3 linked regions of the Homo sapiens genome follow. The main gene of each other region encodes a partner of the protein of the gene in region 2 in a complex. Each region holds a gene or a part of one and is shown on either strand. Other genes may lie near its edges.

Region 1 (7,022 bases), on a different chromosome or scaffold from region 2:
GTTTGGTGGCCCCAAACAAGGACAGAATGAAAGAGGGAAAGACACAGGCCAACAACAGATGATTGAGATGGAGAGGAAGGTAACAAAGAGATGGGAAGTTCCTGAAAGAGGGATGAAAAATGAGGGGCAATGTGATCTGGCCATACCGGATGTCCCCTGCTGCAATGAACACAGGCTCCTTGCTCTCCTGGCTGGTGATGCTGTCCACAGAGAACTGGGAGATGTTGTCACAGCTGTTGGTATGCACTTCGGGGAGCTGGAGAAAGGGGAGTGCTGGTCAGAAGTGCTAAAGTATAGGTCTCCCGTCTTTCCCCTCCTGCTTGCTTGCTATCACTGCAGCATGCTCATCCCTCTCTTTCAAACTCTGCTTACACACCATGTTGGTTACTGGGACCCCAGGCTGCCCAGAGCAGCATTTCTCAACATGTGAACTACCTGCAGTAGAATTACCCAGAATGCAGATTCCCAGGCCCCACCATCAATCTGAATTATAATTACTAGGAATGGGATCTGAAAGTCTGAATTTTTAACAAGTTCTCCAGAAGACTTCCAATGCACTAAAGTTTGCAAACCACTGCCATGACCATTACAGGAGCTCAAAATTTCAGCCTCACTGAGAGTCCCCCAAGGATAGGGATGCGTTCTCCCCTAGGGTCCAAAGCAGACTCTTTGCAGACTAGCTTCTGACAGTTTCTTCAATCTAAGTCATTCAATCTTATCTTCTCATCTCTCTCTAAATACAGAATATTCTACCAGACCCCAAGGCCCATGTCAAGTCTCTTCTGTCCTTCATACCAGAGCATTTCTTCTCAACTCCATTTGTCACCTAGTACACACTGCTTTGTTGTATATCTAAATTTTTTTTTCTTAAATGTCTAATTTCTGCAATTGGACTATAAGCTCAAAGACAGAGATTCTGCCTTTTGGCAAAGTGAAACCTGGCTGTGTGTTTTTTTTTTTTTTTTTTAGACGGAGTTTCGCTCTTGTTGCCCACGCTGGAGTGCAATGGTGTGATCTCGGCTCACTGCGACCTCCGCCTCCCAGGTTCAAGCGATTCTCCTGCCTCAGCCTTCTGAGTAGCTGGGATTACAGGCGCGCGCCACCATGCCTGGCTAATTTTTTGTATTTTTAGTAGGAACGGGGTTTCACCATGTTAGTCAGGCTGTTCTTGAACTCCTGACCTCAGGTGATCTGCCCACCTCAGCCTCCCGAAGTGCTGGGATTGCAGGCGTGAGCCACCGCGCCTGGCCCTGGCTGTGTTTTTGTTTTGTTTTGTTTTAAGACAGAGTCTCACTCTGTCACCCAGGCTGGAGTGCAGTGCTGTGATCTCAGCTCCCTGCAGCCTCCGCCTCCCAGGTTCAAGTGATTCTTGTGCTTCAAGAATCACTTGCCTCCCGAGTAGCTGGGATTACAGGCATGTTCCACCACACCTGGCTTTTTTTTTTTTTTCTTTTGAGACGGAATTTTGCTTGTCACCCAGGCTGAAGTGCAGTGGCGTGATCTTGGTTCACTGCAACCTCCGCCTCCTGGGTTCGAATAATTCTACTGCCTCAGCCTCCCGATTAGCTGGGATTACAGGCACATGCCACCACGCCCGGCTAATTTTTGTATTTTTAGTGGAGACGGGGTTTCACCATGTTGGCCAGGCTGGTCTCGAACTCCTGACCTCAGGTGATCTGCTCGCCCTGTCCTCCCAAAGTGCTGGGATTACAGGCGTGCGCCACCGCACCCGGCATAATTTTTCTAGTTTTAGTGGAGATGGAGTTTCACCTTGTTGGCCAGGCTGGTCTCGAAATCCTGACTTCAAGCGATCCACCCACCTCGGCCTCCCAAAGTGTTGGGATTACAGGTGTGAGCCACTGCGCCTGGCCAGCTGTGTTAATAGCTCTACACAAAATTCTGCTCTGGCTCTTCATGCCCCAGAATAAAGTTCAAGTTTCTTTCCCCAGCTTACAGGGTCCTTCCTATAGTCTGGTCCATGCCCACGTGTCCAGTCTTATTCTTCACCACTTCTTACCTCACACCTGCACATCACAGCCAGGCAAAATTTCTTTCAATTCCTATAATGGCCCAAGCTCCCTCTTGTCTTCTGGCCTTTGCATGCAGTGTTCCCTCTGTCCAGCACTCTTTGTCCAGCTAATTCCTACCCATGCTTCCAGCCTCAGCTGAGAGATTACTTCCTCCAGGAAATCTCTTGTGATGCCCGCCCCAAGTCTGGTGCTCTTATAATGTCCTATCCTTTCCCCCATGACTTGACTCTCACCACACTACAACTACTTGCTTACTGGCCTTGTTCTCTTTCCAGTTAGGTCATAAATCCCTTGTAGGCAGGGGCCAAGTCTTGTTCACTAGCATACAGCACTCAGGTCTGGCACATAGAAGGCCCTCAATAAAAATTTCTTGAATGAATTAATGTATGACTTCTCATCCTCTGCTATTCTATGACAACTTTATGTAGGTGTTCAATAAATATTTTCATTAAATTTCCCTCACTCCCCTTGGCCTAGAAGCTCCTCTTTACATTTAAATCTGAATCCTTCACCTGGAAAATGAACTCCACCTGAATCTATTCCAGGCTAGAGTTGTTCAGAGCTTTCCCCATATTACCCCTCACTACCTACACCACTCATTAGGATACTTGCCTTACCCTGCCTTGGGATATGCTGTCTTGTTTCCAATATAGTGAAAGCTCCTGGAGAAAGCTCCTGTGACCCAGCATTACCTCCCTGAAGCCCTCTCACCTCCACTTGCAGCTCGCCTATGTCATCCACCGACCAGGCCTCATCATCGTTGTCATAGTTGGGCACAGTGCTGAAGCTGCCAGCTCGCTGCTCATGGGTAATACCACATTCGGGCAAGTTTTCTACGGACCTCGTACTCCGAATTCGGTTCTCGGGGATCCGGGCAGGGACACTGGTGGTGTCAAAGTTTTCACATTCAAGGACTTCCACATAAATCAGGTAGGGAGCCTGGGGGAAGAGTGAGACAGTATTTGCAACTTACTTCCACCACTAACCCCCAAATCTCAACTCTGTTAGCAAGGTTCTTCCTGCTGTCCTTTCTCCTAGCTCCAGCCTTCATCCAATAGTCCTCTGAAACTATGAACACTATATTTAGGGCAGATACTTGTCCTATGATCACCTATGTAAAGAATTTGTGTGACAGAATCCTTAAGTCTTCAAAATATTTCAACTGAGCTCCAAAATGTACAGATGATGTGCTTGGGCCAAACCACTCTAGACTATCAATTACAGGCTGTAAGGGAGGCCTAGATGCCTCTGTGGGCTCGTCCTGAAGACAGGGCCCAGGGAGCTACAGTGGACAAAAAGACTGGGACAAAGCTGGGCACTGTCCCAAGGAGTGTCCCAAACTTCAGTATTTCCTTTGAAAGAAGAATATGGGCCGGGCGCGGTGGCTCACGCCTGTAATCCTAGCACTTTGGGGGGCCGAGGCGGGTGGATCATGAGGTCAGGAGTTCAAGACCAGCCTGGCCAAGATGGCGAAACCCCGTCGCTACTAAAACTACAAAAATTAGCCGGGTGTGGTGGCAGGCGCCTGTAATCCCAGCTACTCAGGAGGCTAAGGCAGGAGAATCGCTTGAACCTGGGTTGCGGAGGTTGCAGTAAGCCAAGATTGTGCCACTGCACTCCAGCCTCCGCAATAGAGTGAGACTCCATCTCAAAAAAAAAAGAAGAATCTGAACCATGAATACTCATTCCAGTCAGCACACAAATTCAGCTAATTCTCTCCAGTGTGAATTGGGCATCCTTCTCTCCTTTTGTCGGCTCATTCTGATCAGAAAAGGTCTTAGAAACAAAATATTTCTCTATCCTTATGGTTGCTGTATCTGGAAAGCCCAAGAGTTATAGAAAGGCTGGAGAAAAGCTACCAAAATGACCATAAGGTGGGGTGAAGAGCAATTCTCCTAAGATACAGCAAGAAGGAAGCTAAAAAGATTAGGTTTCTTTGGTCCAGAAAAACAAAGCCCAAAAAGGGATACAGGGGGGCTCTCAAAATCACAATCGCACTGAGACAGAGTCATGGTTGACATATGCATCATGAACTATGAAGGGAGTCTAGGATGTTGGTGAGGGCCTCACTGGTCATACACGCAAACTCTGAACAACCATGGGTGAAGAGTCACGTCCAGGGTAGGGGTTTGGGCCAGAACCCATCTACCTTGTCCTTGGAGTTGAGGACAACAGCCTGTGTGTGGGGTACACGGACCACGTGGTGGTCAAAGCCAGCAGTGGGCAGCCAGACTCGGGCAGGGAGCTTATGGTTGAGCAGGGAGAGCTCTGAGATCAGCCTCTGTGTTTTCTGCTCTTTGGTGGGGAGCGTGGCCAGCCGCTTGCCGATCGCCATCAGGGACTTGATGAATTCTCTCTCAGGAGCCAGTCGAACAGGCTACAGGGGTTTGGGGTAAGACAAAAGATGGTGAAGAAACCATAGAATACAATGGCACACCCACTCAGTCACTCCTGGCCATGCAGGCCGGGGACCCCACTATCTGGAGAACTCCAGGAAAGCAGCTGCTTTTTAGTCTTAGTAGGAGCTTCCACCCACCCTTCACAACTTGAATTGAGAATAGCCAGCACATTCCTTCCCTATAGGCTATCCCTTGAGGGTAAGGGAGGCCATGAGTCCAGGTAACTGGGATGCACTCCTCTTCTCCTGGACTTGGGTTCCTTAAGGACTGTACCAAGGCTTCAGAGTGAGCAGGGGGACATCTGGATAGGTTAGCCAGGGCCACAGAGAGAAGAGCTGCTTACACCTGAATTGTTTCACCCTTTTCAAGAACAGGGTTGTCCTTCTCCCCATCTGGATCCTTGGGCTAGATCTCTGCCGAGGGGCTCCGTCAAGTCCCGCAAGGCTAGAGAAGGGAGCCCCACATCATTTCCACTTTCAAAGAGGGAAGATGCTCGTCATTCAAATTACTTCTGTTGATTTCCATGGTATCCCCCTGTCCGTCCCACAATCTCTTACCAGGCGTCAATGCACATGCAGGGGATGGAAAGAGGATGAGCCGATGAGCAGACTTTGCATTAATCAAGGAGAAAGAAAAAGCAGATGGAAGGAGGTAGGTAGATGGAGAAAGCAACAGCTCCTTTTAGCCCTTGATGATGGCCCTGAAGGCCTGTCTCTTTTAGTGACTCCTCTTTGGGTCCTCTTCCCCTACCTCTCAGTGACTAGGTTCCTCATATTAATTCCCTGCTGTGAGTTTGGCTCCTTGTGCTGGGCAATTCAGTCATCCTCAGAAAGAGCAAAGTTGGTCTTGGAATTAAGGTGCAGGTGGGGAAAAAGAGGGACTCAGCTAGACACGAAGAAAGGCTCTCTTCCCAGTCTAAGCCCTTCTACCGTAAGGGGCATTTTATCAAGACAGCCACCCAACTCCCCATCCCATCTCCCCTCCTTTGTAGAAACAGCATTTGACTCACCAAGCCTTTCTCTCCCTTTCCGTGTGTCTTGCTTAGTTTCTGGATTGAGAGAATTTCTATCCTTGCTCCCTCGAACTCTAAAAGAGCTTCTTTTGAAAACTGGGGAGTATCAGGCCTACCTCTACATGTGCAACAGTGCCAGGATTCAAAGGAAAAGCTCATTCCAGCCTCTGCCTCTTGGGAGATGGTTCAGAGTGCCACATAGGGACTGAAAGAGGGTGTCTGAATCCTTCAGGAATGCTTTAAGTGACATTGTTGAAAAGAGATAAAGAAAAGGAAAACAATGGAATTGGGTTTCTAAGGTCCCTGGAAATATCCTGGGGGTCTAATAGAGAAAGAAAATAAGAGGAAATTTGAAGACTCACTTCTTCCTTCATCTGAATCCACTCAGATGGCAACTGATCTCTGTCCCAAGGACCCTCTACCCCACCCAATTCATAATCATCTCAGATTAGAAAAGGCAGAATTCCTTCCCATTCTCAAATCAGCATTTGGGTTAGGGGCCCCTAAGTTACGTGAGCATGTTAGAAATGTGACCCCAGGCCTCAAGAGAGAGGCTCTGCCACATGAGAGGAGATAGGAATCATGACTGAAAGGGGATTAGCACAGAACAGAGAAAACTGATTTGATAGACAAATCAAATAGAAAATATAAAAAAAATCAGCCAAACTCCCAGAGGTCCTGCATTTCCTCTCACGTCTTTGCCCAGCAACAAGGTCCAAGACCCTGTGGGACCAAAGGGTCAGGGGTTAGTCCAGAGGGAACAAGAAAGGAGAGGGGATTAAGGAACATCCTGGGCAGTGAGCTGGGAAAAGGGAAGAACTCAGACCTGGAAAAAATGTGGTTGAAGTTAAAAAAGAAAACCAGTTGTGGAGAGGCAAAACTTTCCTTCAGGCCAAGTCCTATTTGTTTTTGGAGTCAGCTCACCAGCACAGGGCCTAGCATTTAGAAGATTATGAATAAATATTTGATAATCTGACGGCAGAAGCCATGGGGAAAGGGTTCTGGGTGGGAGAAACAGGATCCTGGGGGTTTCTGCCAGGCAGTTTTTGGCTCTAATCCAGGAGTGAATTCTACCTCTCTCCCAGCTGTTTGCTCCAGACACTCAGGAGCTGGGGGCTGAGCAGCACTGTACTCCAGCTGTCTCTGAGAGAAGGATCAGCTGAGCTCATCTCAGCCTGGGCTCAGGATTTCCACCGCAAAGGTCAGGGGAACTCCAGCAGATCTGGGAGGTCTGGGAGGGAGGAGCTGATCTCCCAGTAAGAAAAGGGGCATTTTAACTCCAGCCTTGGCCTGGGGGCTCAGAAGACCTGGGGACGGAGAGGAAATGCGGCCACTGGGGGAGCCTGCCACCCCGTCCCAGCCTGGCCCCACTTACGGAACTGAATGAATTATCAATACTCTCGGTGCTGGAGGAGAGCTCCTGGGAAAGGGCCAGAGGGCAAAGGGAGAAGGAGGGGGTGGGAAGGGAGGGGAGAGAGACAAAGGTAAAGAATTTAGCTCCAACTTGGATCGTAACTGCTTCTCTAGTGAAGTTCTACCTTTCTGCTTTAATAAAAGAAAGTCAACTCAGAAATGCTACTT
Region 2 (7,022 bases):
GTTATCCACAGAAGGTGAAGAGAAATTACAAGAAATAATACTTTTTTTTTGAGATGGAGTCTCGCTCTGTCACCAGGCTGGAGTGCAGTGGCGTGATCTTGGCTCAATGAACCCTCCGCCTCCCAGGTTCAAGCGATTCTCCTGCCTCAGCCTCCTGAGTAGCTGGGACTACAGGCATGTGCCACCACACCCATCTAATTTTTGTATTTTTAGGAGAGACGGGGTTTCACTATGTTGGCCAAGATGGTCTTGATCTGATCTCGTGATCCACCCACCTCGGCCTCCCAAAGTGGTGAGATTACAGGTGTGAGCCACTGTGCCCAGGCCCTAAATTATTTTTTAAAAACTAAGCATCAATAGGTGTCAGAACCTAAAGAGCCCCAATATGAAAGATGGACGTCCAAGGTGAGTGCAACTATACCAGAAGCATCTAATTTGGCCCATGCTGAAGGAGCTAGGGTTGACTACTCTCCACTGGTAGATCTTAAAGTGACTCACACTCCAAACAGAATCCTATACTCCATGAAATTCAAGAACCAGCCTCAACTCTGAGCTAAACTACAAATCTAGCTTTTCTAACACTTTAAGCTTAGAAAAACAAACCTTTATTTATCAGGTTGGTGCAAAAGTAATCGCAGCTCTTGCCATTACTTTAAATGGCAAAACCCTCAATTACTTTTGCACTACCCTATCATATGATTCAAAATAAATGCTGGACAAAAACCAGAACCAAATCTTTTAACAGGTAAAAATGAAAGTTGTCCCATAGGTGGCAGGGTTATGAACTCTATTCCACCTGCTCCAATGTTAAAAATGTTGAAGTCTTAACCACTCTCTAGTGATTTTCAGAGGTAATTACAAAAGGATTCAAGACAATCTTAAATTTTATATATGACTTACACATGAAAACGGAGGGGAAGGGGAAAATACACTAATTATTATTTTTATATTCCCCAAATCATCCATTAGCTTCATTTATCTACTAAGCAAATATATCTCTGGCCTGGAAAGGAGACTACTTCCAAGGTCATACAGATAGCCAAATGACCTCTTGGAAACTGTGTGCTCCTCCTGTCAAACAAGGGGTTTTGTAATTGCAAGATGAAATTGTTTCTAATGTCTCTTTCCTGTTCTAACTTTCAAGGATTCTTGAATTTTCTGTATAAACATGCAAATTTGATACAAAATATTTCTTTTTCTAGAGTAATGTGTTGACAGTCTTGGTCAACCAAATTCAGAATGAAATATTAAGTTTTGGGATAATTTCTTTTCTTGACAGATAAATGTTCCAATCAACCTATAATGGTGACAGCTGACACTAATAAGGCTCAGAGAAGACATACAAGTAGTGACAGAATTAGAATCAAAACCCTGGTTTTTTCTTTTCTTTTTTTTTTTTTTTGAGACAGAGTCTCGCTCTTTTGCCCAGGCTGGAGTGTAGCGGTGTGATCTCAGCTCACTGCAACCTCTGCCTCCCGGGTTCAAGCAATTCTCTTCCTCAGCCTCCCGAGTAGCTGGGATTACAGGTGCCCACCACTATGCCCAGCTAATTTTTGTATTTTTAGTAGAGATGGGGTTTCACCATCTTGGCCAAGCTGTTCCTGAACTCCTGACCTGGTGATCCGCCCGCCTCGGCCTCCCAAAGTGCTGGGATTACAGGCGTGAGCCACCACGCCCGGCCAACCCTGGTTTTCTTATTGCAATATGCGCTCTTCATGCTATACTGATAGCAAAATTCAGTTGGAAGCAGACAGTAGATCAGGGCCTCTCAAAAAGTGATGTGAACAAAACACAGTATCTAGGTCTCAGGTCATCACTTTAAAAATGTCATCACTTCAAACTAGAAAAGAAAAATCCTTAATACTAAAGTTAGTTAACAAAGTGCTTCTTATGTTTGATATATAAGATTCTTTCATTCTTTACTGTGGCTTGTTATCTTGACTCAAGTATCAGAAAAGTTTATAGATAGCTCCAAATTGTGCTAATAAAGTAATTTTAGGTTTAATAAACAAGTATACAATACTATTCAAAAAACTCTTCAAGATTTTCAGCACTAGCATATAGAACTGGTTTATAGAAAATGGCAGTGGACTAGAATAAAGTTGGAAGAGAAATGTATAAAATGAGATTACATAGTCCCCAAGAGAAATGGCCCTAGAAGTCTAACAAAAAAACAGTAATACCTAGATTATGATCTGCAATTCCTACCTCTTTACCTGACACACAGCAAATGCTTGATAATTTTTTCACCTAAGCCTCAAAATTTCAAATCTAGTATTTATCTGAAGGAGAAGAATGAGAAGACCTAAGAAACAAACGAGACATACAAATCAACTGCATTGTGGACTGAATTTGAATCCCAATTCAAATAACTTAAAAAAAGAGAGATAATTGGAATTCAAGTATTATTTAGATATTCAAACATTATTAGGGAATTATGTTGATGTTCCTGGTGTGATAGTGACACTGTTTCTTTTTATACATCTGCAGTATCCCAAGGACAATCACGACCTTTCATATTAAGTCATTTAAAATAAGAAGCTAGGCAAAATAGACTTCCACTTGGATTCTGTAGATACCTGAGATTTTGTAACTCAAGTTATTAATTCCCTACCATTATCTTTACCAATATGGAGGCAACTTGATGGGCAAGAAAATCATTCTTAAAGGAACTAAAACATGTAGAGTCTCAGCACACTTTTGATACTAACAAATTTTAACAAGACAGGTAACTCATCAATGTGTGTATTTTTTAGTTCTCAGTCTAATATTTCAGTTTCTGTAATTTTCCTTCATAGGACTTTAATAGTAGCTGAGATATATTTATGAGAGCCTATGAAATGTGTTGAGAAAAAATTTTAAAAGATGTATTTAATAAAAAAAAAAATTCCCTAGAGTAAAACATAACCTCTTCAACCACATTCATCACTAATGATGCTGTTATGTACTTACTGTCAAGTTGTCTCTCAGTAATTGCATTATTAGCGTGCTGTCTTTGTATGACTCTTCACTTAATGTATCAAGTTCAGCAATGGCTTCATCAAAAGCCTACGATTTAAAAATAGTACATTACATTTCAGTGCTCAAATAATAAAGACTGCTAAATTTCTACGTAACAGGTAAAATACATACTGTCTTTGCAAGAGAGCAGGCTTTCTCTGGGGAGTTCAGAATCTCATAATAGAACACAGAGAAGTTAAGGGCCAGACCCAGTCTGATAGGATGTGTTGGTTGCATTTCCTTTTTGCTGATTTCAAAAGCTTCTTGGTATGCTTGTTGTGACTGATCGACAATCCCTGGATAAGACACACCAAAACGTACTGAGATAAAGTGTGCATTATATCTTCACCCCTCAAACCAAACCTTTAATATCTCACATATCCTTTGAAATACTAACCTGTAACAGCTTAATATTTGTTAATTGAACAAGGTCCTTTTTTTTTTTTAAAGGGAGCTTTCTCCTGGTACACACTAGCCATTGATCAATGTCAAGATAAAACAACTTTATAATCTCATTATTGTTATGTTTTTAAAAAATTGACGAGTTTTGACATCCCAGACCCAAGCAATCCTCCCACCTCAGCCTCCAGATTAGCTGGGACCAAAGGCTTGCACCACCATGCCCAGCTAATTTTCAAAATATTTTTTGTAGAGAGAGATGTTGCTCAGGCTGGTCACTTTTCTTAAAATCTTGAAAAAACATCCCTGTACACAATATTGGCTTTTCAGAAAGCATTTATTTTAGAATAGCAGTATGAGGCAGTAGATGTGTATTCTCAGAACACAAAGAGCACTGCTACTCCTTATTCGGCACTCTAAGCAATTCAAAACAAGACATTATGTACGCTTCAGAGACTCTTCCTCACTATGTTATCTTATACAAGTTCAACCAACAGGTTTAAAAACAGCATACCTTTCTTGTCATCACCAGCGGCAACCTCAGCCAAGTAACGGTAGTAATCTCCTTTCATTTTCAAATAGAAGACTTTGCTCTCTGCTTGTGAAGCATTGGGGATCAAGAACTTTTCCAAAAGAGACTTAAGAAGAAAAGAAACAGACATAGTGAGAATAAAACATTTACAAAACTGAAAGAACTTGCATTTCTTAAAGAACAAACTATAGCCTAAGTTATAAAACTTAAACACCCAGTCACTGTCAATACAATTGTGAATGCAGCTGGCACATGAATTTGTGGTTTAAAGCAGAATGCTTTGGGCAGCAATATTTTAAGTTTGAAGTTAGTGTTCAGTTTATTATTTGAGGACAATAAAATTGAACATTGGTCCCTGACAATGTTATCTATTTACATGCTGACTTCATGAATGTGGGGCATGACCGTTCACATTTAGGAACATTTTCTAATGAGCTGGCAAGCTTTCCATCTGAAGTTTCATGTGGTCATGACATGAAAATAGAAAGAACATACGGGATGAACCTTTTGGGACTCTGGAGAAATGACTAAAGCAGAAACCAATAATGTAAGACACTTAAGGAGTCCATGCCAGAGAAGGAGGAACAAAATAAACTTCATTTATAACAACACAATTCAAGCAAACCTCACAACAGATAAAAAAACCGTTCAAAAGTTTTATTTTTCCTAAAGACAGTGGTAGGAGACTTACAGATTTTAAAGAGCAGACCTTTAATCTCATTGAAGTCATTTTCGGCTAGTAAGATACACGATTACAGATCATCCCAGACAACAGATAAAATTAAAACATCATCCTATAAAATTCTGTCTAAAACTACTATTACAATCTGAGTCATTTGATTAGGATTTTAAAAATTACACTCTTTAACTGATTTTAAAGCAAAAAGATTAGATCATTGTGTTGGGGATGGGAAGAAGTCTCAATAAATGTGTAATTTTTTTCTTTCCAGTTAAGGGGGAGAAAAATAATTCTAGTAGTAGAATTAGGTAAACATTAAAGCAAAAAAACCCCAACCACCCATTCTCACTACCCCACTTCCTTTAAAGTTCAAGTACACTCTGAGAATCAAGGTGAAGTCAATTTTCAGCTGAGCTAAATTCCAAATCCATTCTTACAAAAAAAAAGTATTAGTTTATATAGCACCTACTTATATATAAAATATAAATTTGAAAAATGCTTTTAAATGGTAACTCCAACTTTTTGTTTACCCATTATGTTCCAATGCTGGGTAGGTGAACAGTTTTAACCCAACTTCTTCCCCCAATTTTTTTTTTTTTTTTTTTTACAACTCAAGCTACAGATAACCCAGATGAAGTGGCAGTAGGGCCAGATTGCACTGTGCTATATAAAGAGGTTAAAGGTGAGAAAAGTCAACCTGAAATGATGTTTCCTGCAATTATTAACCGATATTTAAAAATACTGGCCTGAGGCCGGGCACAGTGGCTCATGCCAGTAATCCCAGCACTCTGGGAGGCTAGGGTGGCAGGATCACTTGAGGTGAGCCTCGTCAACATGGTGAAACCCTGTCTCTACTAAAAATACAAAAATTAGCCAGGCGTGGTGACGGGCGCCTGTAATCCCAGCTGAGGCAGGAGAACTGCTTGAGCCCGAGAGATAGAGGCTGCAGTGAGCCGAGGTTGCACCACTGCACTGCAGCCTGGATGACAGAGCAAGACTCCATCTCAAAATAAATAAAAATAAAATAAAATTACTGGCCGGAAATCAGAAGAACGTTTTGGTTAGGATAGCAACCTCTGTCTTACACCACATTCATACTTTCATATTCAAAGTTCTCTTAGCTGCAAAAGTGTTTTGTCCTTTGAATACAATGCTTTTTACCACCTATGGTTGCTCTGTGGAGATCTGCCTCAAACAGTGGAAGACACTTGCATTTAAAATAGTCAAGTGAGTCTTTCCACTTAAAAACAATGGTTTTAAGAAACAAATGACCAGGATTTTCAAAAGTTTCATTGTTACACAAATTGTATTATTCATTCAACTATGGGAGATGGTATAAACATAAGTGGCTTTGGGGTGAGTCTGGTTTTGAATTACAGCACTATACACCGTGTGAACTACTTAATCTCAATGATTCAGTTATCTCACCTGTAAGGCAGAGACCTCTAAGATTATTGAGAAAAAATACAGGTAAGCACTTAGGAGTAAGCACTTAAAATTTTATTTCTATTATCACAATAACACCAGACACCATGCTAGAAGCTGGAAGCACAATATTCTGGTAATTCATAATCTAGCTGTAGAGACAAGGCTATCATTCCTTCCATTACAATACACTTTACAAGAATTGCAGGGCACGGTGGCTCACTCCTGTAATCCCAACACTTTGGGAGGCTGAGGTGGGAGGATCACTTCTTGAGTCCAGGAGTTTGAGACCACCCCGGTGAACATGAGATCCTGCCTCTACAAAAAAATTTAAAAGTTAACCAGGTGTGGTGGCACACCCCTATAGTCCCAGCTACTTGGAAGGCTGAGACAGGAGGATCATCTGAGTCCAGGAGTTTGAGGCTGCAGTGATCTGTAATTGAATTATACCACTGTACTCTAGGACAGGGTGACAGTGAGGCTGTCTCAAAAAGAGTAACACTGCCTAATCACGTCTTTCACTTTTCGGTAACTTTAACCCCCTCTATGTATGCAGAGATGAAGGCCATAAACACATGCAGTTACTTAAGAGTGAACCAGTCACTTAAGATGTAAAATTTTAAAGCTGTACTAAAAACTTAAATTTTTTTAGGAAAGGTGTTGATAAATGCTACTAAAAGTAGTAATCTATCTTTTGTAGGTAGTAACTTTCTACCTGGGTAATATGCTGAACTAAGCAGTTCCCTGGGAATTAAAATGGCAGTTAAGCACTTCTTTCCCCAAAGCTGAACACTGAATTAACCATAAAACAACTTTAAAGCTATTTGTTAGAACCCACAAGTAACAGGAGGGCTGGGTAAACAGCAGTCAGGCTGCTTACTGGCCTAATGATAGACCAAAAGAACCAAACAAGTGGCAAGTGTTTCTGGTGAGATGCTGACCATAAGAGTTGAGAAAGGTGGCTGGGCATGGTGGCTCACGCCTGTA
Region 3 (6,984 bases), on a different chromosome or scaffold from region 2:
TTTCTTATGGGTAGAAAAGAAAGGTTATCACTCAGAAAATCTGAAATTAGAATTCTGGAAGGTTAACTTATGAAACATTCCTTTTGGAATATTTCATATAAAACATATAAAAATTAGTTGACAACATATTTCTTTTTTTTTGAGATGCAGTCTCGCTCTGTCGCCAGGCGGGAGTGCATTGGTGCTATCTTGGCTCACTGCAACCTCCACCTCCCGGGTTCAAGAGATTCTCCTGCCTCAGCCTCCCCAGTAGCTGGGCCTACAGGCACGTGCCACCATGCCAAACTAACTTTTGTATTTTTAGTAGAGATGGGGTTTCACCATGTTGGCCAGGATGGTCTCGATCTCTTGACCTCGTGACCCGCCCGCCTTGCCCTCCCAAAGTGCTGGGATTACAGGCATGAGCCACTGCACCTGGCCAACAACATATTTCTTTATGCTGGTTTCTTTGCCTCTGCTGAGATTAGACTGAGGCACAAAACTTCTCATATCCTAATGACTATACTTTCATTCCCACCATTAATCAGTCAACAAAATATATTCCTACTTGTCTAACATTTTCATATGCAAAGTAGCTCCTATTAGTGTTATTATCTTTCTCTTCCCATTGGCTTAATCATTCTCAAAAATCCTCTAGTTACCCACAAAATTCCATCTCTCTAGGCAGATTCTTTTTATACTTTCACCACCTTCCGTCTCTATCCTCCTTCCCTGTTTTCTCCCTTAAAAGTTATTCTTCCCTTTGAGGCCTTTATCTCCCTTCTCCCTACCAGTTTCATCAAGGTCTGCAGAAGTGGTAAGCTGAGTGGCAGTTATCTCCCCACTGCTAAGATTCGAAAGATCGAGGCAACGTTTTGGGGTTCCTCTGTTGAGACATAATAGTACATCGAAATTCCCATTAGATTATTATATCCTTAAAAGTCAAAGATCATGTCATCCTCTTCTTTTTTTTTTTTTTTTTTTTTTGCAGTGGAGTCTTGCTCTGTCCCCCCAGCTCAAGTGCAGTGGCACGATCTTGGCTCACTGCAACCTCCGCCTCCCGGGTTCAAGCGATTCTCCTGCCTCAGCCTCCCAAATAGCTGGGATCACAGGCGCCTGCCACCACGCCCAGCTAATTTTTGTATTTGTAGTAGAGATGGGGCTTCACCATGTCAGCCAGGCTGGTCTTAAACTCCTAACCTCAGGTGATCCACCCACCTCGGCCTTCCAAAGTGCTGGGATTACAGGTGTGAGCCACAACGCCTGGCCAAGCCTGTTCATTTGAAACACCCCTTAATGACTATCAGATCATCTGAACAGTGTCCAAATAAATCTAATTGCTTTTGGGAAATATATCAGACTGGGCTGAGAAAAATCTCCCACTACCATAATCTGTACTTTATTTTCTCCTTACCAACATACTGAAACAGATAATTTTTTTTTTTTTAAATGAGGCCCAGAGTTTATTGGCCGAGGGGGATCTTGACTCCACATTCCCGGTCCTGAGCACTATGAACACAGGCTTGATTTCTCCCTGGGGTCCCTAGTTTTTCTCAGGTACTACTTCTCTTTGCTAGTTGAGACATGGTATGATCAGAATTCAAAGTACAACTGCAATAACACTAATATTAATACTAATAAAGTGACCGACTCGTAATGCAGCGGTTTTCAAAGACTTTTCCCAGTTATCACATCATTTGATTCTCACAAGATCCTAGTAAGATAGGAAGCGATTATTATTTCTTTGTCTTTTCTTTTCTTTTTGAGATAGAGTCTCACTCTGTTTCCCAGGCTGAAGTGCAGTGAGGCGATCTTGGCTAACTGCAGCCTCCACCTCCCGGGCTCAAGCAATCCTCCCACCTCAGCCTCCCGAGTTGCTGGGACTATAGGTGCACACCACCACACTCAGCTAACTTTTAATATTTTTTGTAGAGACGGCGTCTTGCCATGTTGCCCAGGCTGGTCTTGAACTCCTAGACTCAGGCGATCCGCCCTCCTTGGCCTCCCAAAGTGCGGAGATTACAGGCATGAGCCACCTCGCCTGGCTGAGATTATTTCTTGTCACAGAAAAGAAGGTGAGACTCAAAAGGGTTACACAGTCAAGGGCAGAGTTGAGACTTAAAGCCTGACCTTTGAGCCGGGATAATTGAAAACAAACCAACAAACAAACCCAACTGTTTGGAAATAGCAAAGGCAATACAGTGTAAAAATAAAAGTATATTTACCCAGACAAAATGCTTAGGTTTGCAGAATCACCAAGAAATTTGCCCACTGGAGTTCTAGGGACATCTGGACAGACGGTAAAGGAAGTGTCTCTCTCCAGGAGCAGGTTTAACATTTTCCTTTGATTAGACCTAAAACTGGGTCCTGAGCCAGAGCTTCCTTCCTCTCTTGTGGATGAGAAGAGTTCCGTAGACATGGTCTTCGAATTCTCACCAGGAGAAAAACAAAACCTAGCTAGGAGGAAAACGTCATCTAAATCGGTACATCACAGTTCCCTCAGCTTTCCTAAACTCCTCCACCCTTTCCAGCCAGGCGAATCAACACTGGAAGAGGGGCAACCCCGAAGGGTGATTCACAGCCTGGCTTAAGGTTAGAACCTGAATTCACCGACGAGAGGCAACCTTAGGACCTTAAAGATGGAATGAAGAGAGGATTTTGACTTGTTCCACGCCACACAGCTCGAGACTCCTGACTAGAAAGAACCCGGGTCTCGTAACTCGCGATAGTCCCCATTCGGCCCTCCCAACCTCTGTCTGTGGGGGCCCGACTGGACCCTAAGGGGGACAATGGGGTCTCCGTGATTCCGTGGCGGAGACGGCTGCGGACTTACCTCAAGCCTGGAGTCTGAGGCTTGCCTACAAGAGGAGAGAAAGTAGATAGGGATCGGACACAGGCGAAGACTTGAGCAGAATGAAAGGAAATCTAGGGGAAAGGAGGTAGTTAACTAGATTGCAGCTCTGCCTTCCGACTGGGTAGGCCAACGTCGGACTCAGAGTCTTCCCTGAGCAGAAGGCCAAAGTTACGGCCTCTGAGCAAGAATATCAACAGCCGCAGGCGTTGACCATTCAAACCTTCCGCCAGCCCAGTAACCTATCCCCGCTCGCCTCTAAGCTGCGTCAGCCAATCTCCGCGCGCGCGCCCAGGGCCTCATGGCCTATCGTTGGGCTCGCAGATCACCTGGGGGCGTGTGCTTGCTCTGGAAATGGTAAGACTTGCCCCGCCCCATAGCCAGAGCAGGATAGTGTTTGGCCCACCAGCGTTAGGCAGGCTGCGGGGTAAGCTCCGCCTCACGGGGAGCCTGGCGCATCATTGGCTCTCCCTCTCACCAATCTCCACACCCTTTCTGTTTTCCTCGTTCCCTCAGCCCCACGAACCCCGGGAGATTTAAACCGCGCCTTACTAGTGATGTCCATTCACTAGGGTAATACTAGGAGAGATTATTTTGGGTGGAGGGTGTTGTAAGCGTTTCATTTTCTTCGCTTCTTTCTCGTGCCGTTTTCGCGGACGTTTTCTTCTAAGTTTTGCTGGCCTTCCACGGGAGATGGAGCGTTTGCTGCCGGCGTGGCAAGTGTTGGGGCGAGACGGGTGTGTGTGTTTATGCTGAGAGGCATTAGCCCCTTCCAAGAGCTTTGTTTGGTGTTTCTTTTAGTGTGCAGCATCTCAGAGACTCTAGCTCACGTGGGTAAAAAGAAATTCCGTTGCAGGGAAAGTGGAGGAATTAAATCATCTTGGTATAATCCTTATCGCAATCCAGAGGACCTCAAAGATTGGTTATTAATGAAAATTTGAACATTGACGAGGTGATATTTATAAATTATTGGCCGGACGCGTTGGCCCACACCTGTAATCCCAGCACTTTGGGAGGCCGAGGCGGGCAGATTACATGAGGTCAGGGGTTCAAAACCAGCCTGGCCAACATGATGAAACCCCGTCTCTACTAAAAATACAAAATTTAGCCGGTTGTGGTGGCACACACCTGTAATCCCAGCTACTTGGGAGGCTGAGGCATGAGAACTGCTTGAACTCGGGAGACAGAGGTTGCGCCACTGCACTCCAGCCTGGGCATTAGAGTGAAACAAACAAAAAGACATTCCTAATGTTAGGGATTTGCTTTTAAATAATCCTGTGCTGGGGGAAGGTATTGATGATACAAGATTGACCCTGACTGTTGAGTGATGGGGGCAGGAGGGTCCATCATATCTGTGCTTCTCAAGGTTTAATTTGCACACTAACCACCTGAGGACCTGCTAAATGCAGATTCTGATTCGGGATGTCTGGGTTGCGGTTGCGGCCCAAGATTCTGCCCTTCTAACAAGCCCCCAGCTGATGGTGAGGTAGCTGGTCCTACGACCATACTTTGCGTGGTAAGGTATTACCCCATACTTCTTACTTCAATGTATATTTGAAAATTTCCATAATAAAAATGTTCAAAATAACCTTGGAAGCTCTTTAAGATGTAGGCTCCAAAAACGATAATTCGATAGGTCTAAAGTGGGGTCATTATCAAGGCCCCCAGGTGCTACCCATGCAGACGGCTTGCAGATCATGCTTTGAGAAACAAAAGTCAAAATGCAACTTGTGTCTGTTGTCAGGATCTTGGTGGTGGTAGTGGCTGAGAGGCACAGTGTAGCCAGCTGGTTTTTATCCTAATACCCTTTTCATCTGCAGAACCTGCTTCCCCAGAAAGGAGATGTGTGAAGATTCTTTGTCCTCTAGGATACAGACAGTGAGTGTAGGAGTTAGCACAGAACCTTGCTATGCCAGGTGAGTTTGAAAATCAGGCTGGGGATTAAGGGAGTGTGGGATGAGTTGTTATCTGCTTTGACGACTACAGTATAATCACACTTTGTGGGAAATTGTATACTTCCCTGCAGGTGGGAAGTAGAGACAAAGTTATTCTCTATTGGTGGCAAAAGCAGATAGATTATGGCAAGTGCACACCTGGCTACCAGTGCTTTCTGCACCAGGTCCTCAAGTAAGTGCAGTTGTGGGTGGTCACAACAAAGGTGTCAGCCAAGTGGCTTTAGTTCAATGTCAGGTGATGGAAATATACTAAAATCTGAGCACTCTGACAAAGTTGCAGCATTCCTAAAACAAATTCTCCAAAAATCTAGCCCCAAAAATAAGTTTCTGAGATTTCTCAAATGGAACTTATACACCTAGCTCTTAAGAGTATTTTTTTTTTTTTTAAGATGGAGTCTCGCTCTCTCCCGGGCTAGAGTACAGTGGCGCAATCTTGGCCCACTGCAACCTCTGCCTCCTGGGTTCAAGTTATTCTCCTGCCTCAGCCTCCCGAGTAGCTGGGACTACAGGTGCCCGCCACCACGCCTGGCTGATTTTTGTATTTTTAATAGAGGTGGGGTTTCACCATATTGTCCAGGCTGTTCTGGAACTCCTGACCTCAAATGATCCACCCACCTCGGCCTCCCAAAGTGCTGGGATTACAGGCATGAGCCACTGCGCCCGGCCGCCCTTAAGACTTTTTACAGATGCAGTGGTGCGCCTGTAGTCCCAGCTACTTGGGAGGATCACTTGAGCCCAGGAGTTTGAGGCCAGCCTGGGCAACATAGTGAGACTGTCTCCTAAAAACAACAACAAAAAAACTTTTTTTTTTTGAGACAGTTTCTTTCTTGTTGCCTAGGCTGGAGTGCAATGGCGCAATCTCAGCTCACTGCAACCTCTGTTCAAGTGATTCTCTTGCCTCAGCCTCCTGAGTAGCTGGGATTACAGGCATGCGCCACCACACCTGGCTAATTTTTGTATTTTTAGTTGAGACAGGGTTTCGCTGTGTTGGCCAGGCTGGTCTCAAACTCCTGACCTGAGGTAATCCACCCACCTCGGCCTCCCAAAGTGCTGGGATTACAGGTGTGAGCCACCATGCCCAGCCAACAAAACTCTTAAAAGCTCTACGTTTGTTAATGAGGTTGTTTTCCTAGCAAACATTTTCACTATCTCCTCATGATTCCAGCTGGCTTAGCTAATTGCAACATACTTAGCTAATTACATGTAAGTTTACATGCATACATACAAACTGTGAAATGGTAGAATTATTTTAAAGGGAAGTCAAATATTGTCTTTTATATCTTGATTTATGAGGGTGTTGGAATATATCTAAGTTATCCTTCCCAGAAGAAAGAATATTAGGGAGGTGGGAAGTTTGGTGTTTAATCTGATTTGAAGATTTACTTTTTCTGTTGGATTGAGGGCATTGATCCTATGTCATCCTTGGGGAATCCCTATCTAGGCTCCTGATTCACTGTGATAAGCAGTGAGCTGTGTTCCTTCACCTTGACCTCAGTCTGACTCATACATGTTGTTGCCAGGGCACAGTGACAGCCCGGGCTTCACCCTGAAACACCAAACAAGAACAGGAGGTACAGCCATCACTCCTGGGATGCCCAGATCAGGCAGTGGAGAAGAGCCCTGCATTCCTGGGATCCTCCCAGCCAGCCTCTGCAGGGCAGAGGGGCTGAGGGGTGTGTTTTCTATTCCTGGTTCTTTTTATGACTGGTAGGCTTAGCCCTACTTCTCCCCACTTTGCAGAGGTTTAGCTTTCACTGGGTGAAAAGGGAAGGTCTGAATCGAGTGCATGTTCCTCCAACTCGGCTGTTCCTTCCTAGGCAGGGAATGAAGAGTCTTAGAACCAATGGATTCCACTCCTTTGGATGACCTCCTGGATGACTGGCTCCAGGCCCTGGAGCCCTCAGAATATGGATGGAGAGTATCCTTTGCTGAAACCCACTGGAGCAGGGTCACAGATGGGGTTTGGCCCATGAGGGCATAATTAAGATGCAGTTCAAAGCAGTGGCTCAAGAACAAAAGACTAAAAAGGGGGCAGCAGGGAAAGAGCAGGACATGAGTAAAAAATCCTTGGGAACTAAAAGTGGAATAAGGAGATTTAATTATGGGTAGGAGTGTTGGGCTGCACTGGGAGGCCATTTTATAGATGACGAAAGGGGATGTAACCTTCCTTTGAAATGAGGCCTGAAACTTGACTTGCAG

Evidence for each region.
Region 1: the proteins of YWHAZ (region 2) and PI4KB are in contact, whole or in part, in a crystal structure (PDB 5NAS), measured with the Homo sapiens proteins. Residues at the interface, in NP_001129171.1 of Homo sapiens: Asn42, Ser45, Val46, Lys49, Arg56, Phe117, Lys120, Arg127, Tyr128, Gly169, Leu172, Asn173, Val176, Tyr179, Glu180, Leu216, Ile217, Leu220, Asn224, Leu227, Trp228; in NP_001317650.1 of Homo sapiens: Lys290, Arg291, Thr292, Ala293, Ser294, Asn295, Pro296, Lys297.
Region 3: the proteins of YWHAZ (region 2) and CDC25C are in contact, whole or in part, in a crystal structure (PDB 5M36), measured with the Homo sapiens proteins. Residues at the interface, in NP_001129171.1 of Homo sapiens: Lys11, Glu14, Gln15, Glu39, Val46, Lys49, Asn50, Arg56, Arg60, Val61, Ser64, Lys120, Arg127, Tyr128, Glu131, Gly169, Leu172, Asn173, Val176, Glu180, Asp213, Leu216, Ile217, Leu220, Asn224, Trp228; in NP_001274511.1 of Homo sapiens: Gly210, Tyr212, Arg213, Ser214, Pro215, Ser216, Met217, Pro218, Glu219, Asn220, Leu221, Asn222, Arg223, Arg225.

Annotation. Positions count from the first base shown.
Region 1 is NC_000001.11:151,303,395-151,310,416, forward strand, and holds part of PI4KB (phosphatidylinositol 4-kinase beta), read right to left. Parts: intron 6,862-7,022; coding exon 6,817-6,861; intron 4,796-6,816; exon of another isoform or gene 4,773-4,795; intron 4,408-4,772; coding exon 4,180-4,407; intron 2,970-4,179; coding exon 2,742-2,969; intron 257-2,741; coding exon 147-256; intron 1-146. UniProt on the Homo sapiens protein: Phosphorylates phosphatidylinositol (PI) in the first committed step in the production of the second messenger inositol-1,4,5,-trisphosphate (PIP). May regulate Golgi disintegration/reorganization during mitosis, possibly via its phosphorylation.
Region 2 is NC_000008.11:100,921,003-100,928,024, forward strand, and holds part of YWHAZ (14-3-3 protein zeta/delta), read right to left. Parts: intron 4,038-7,022; coding exon 3,914-4,037; intron 3,297-3,913; coding exon 3,133-3,296; intron 3,049-3,132; coding exon 2,953-3,048; intron 1-2,952.
Region 3 is NC_000005.10:138,328,783-138,335,766, forward strand, and holds the start of CDC25C (M-phase inducer phosphatase 3), read right to left. Parts: upstream 3,023-6,984; 5' UTR 2,838-3,022; coding exon of another isoform or gene 2,813-2,837; intron 2,437-2,812; coding exon of another isoform or gene 2,399-2,436; coding exon 2,205-2,398; intron 866-2,204; coding exon 771-865; intron 1-770. UniProt on the Homo sapiens protein: Functions as a dosage-dependent inducer in mitotic control. Tyrosine protein phosphatase required for progression of the cell cycle. When phosphorylated, highly effective in activating G2 cells into prophase.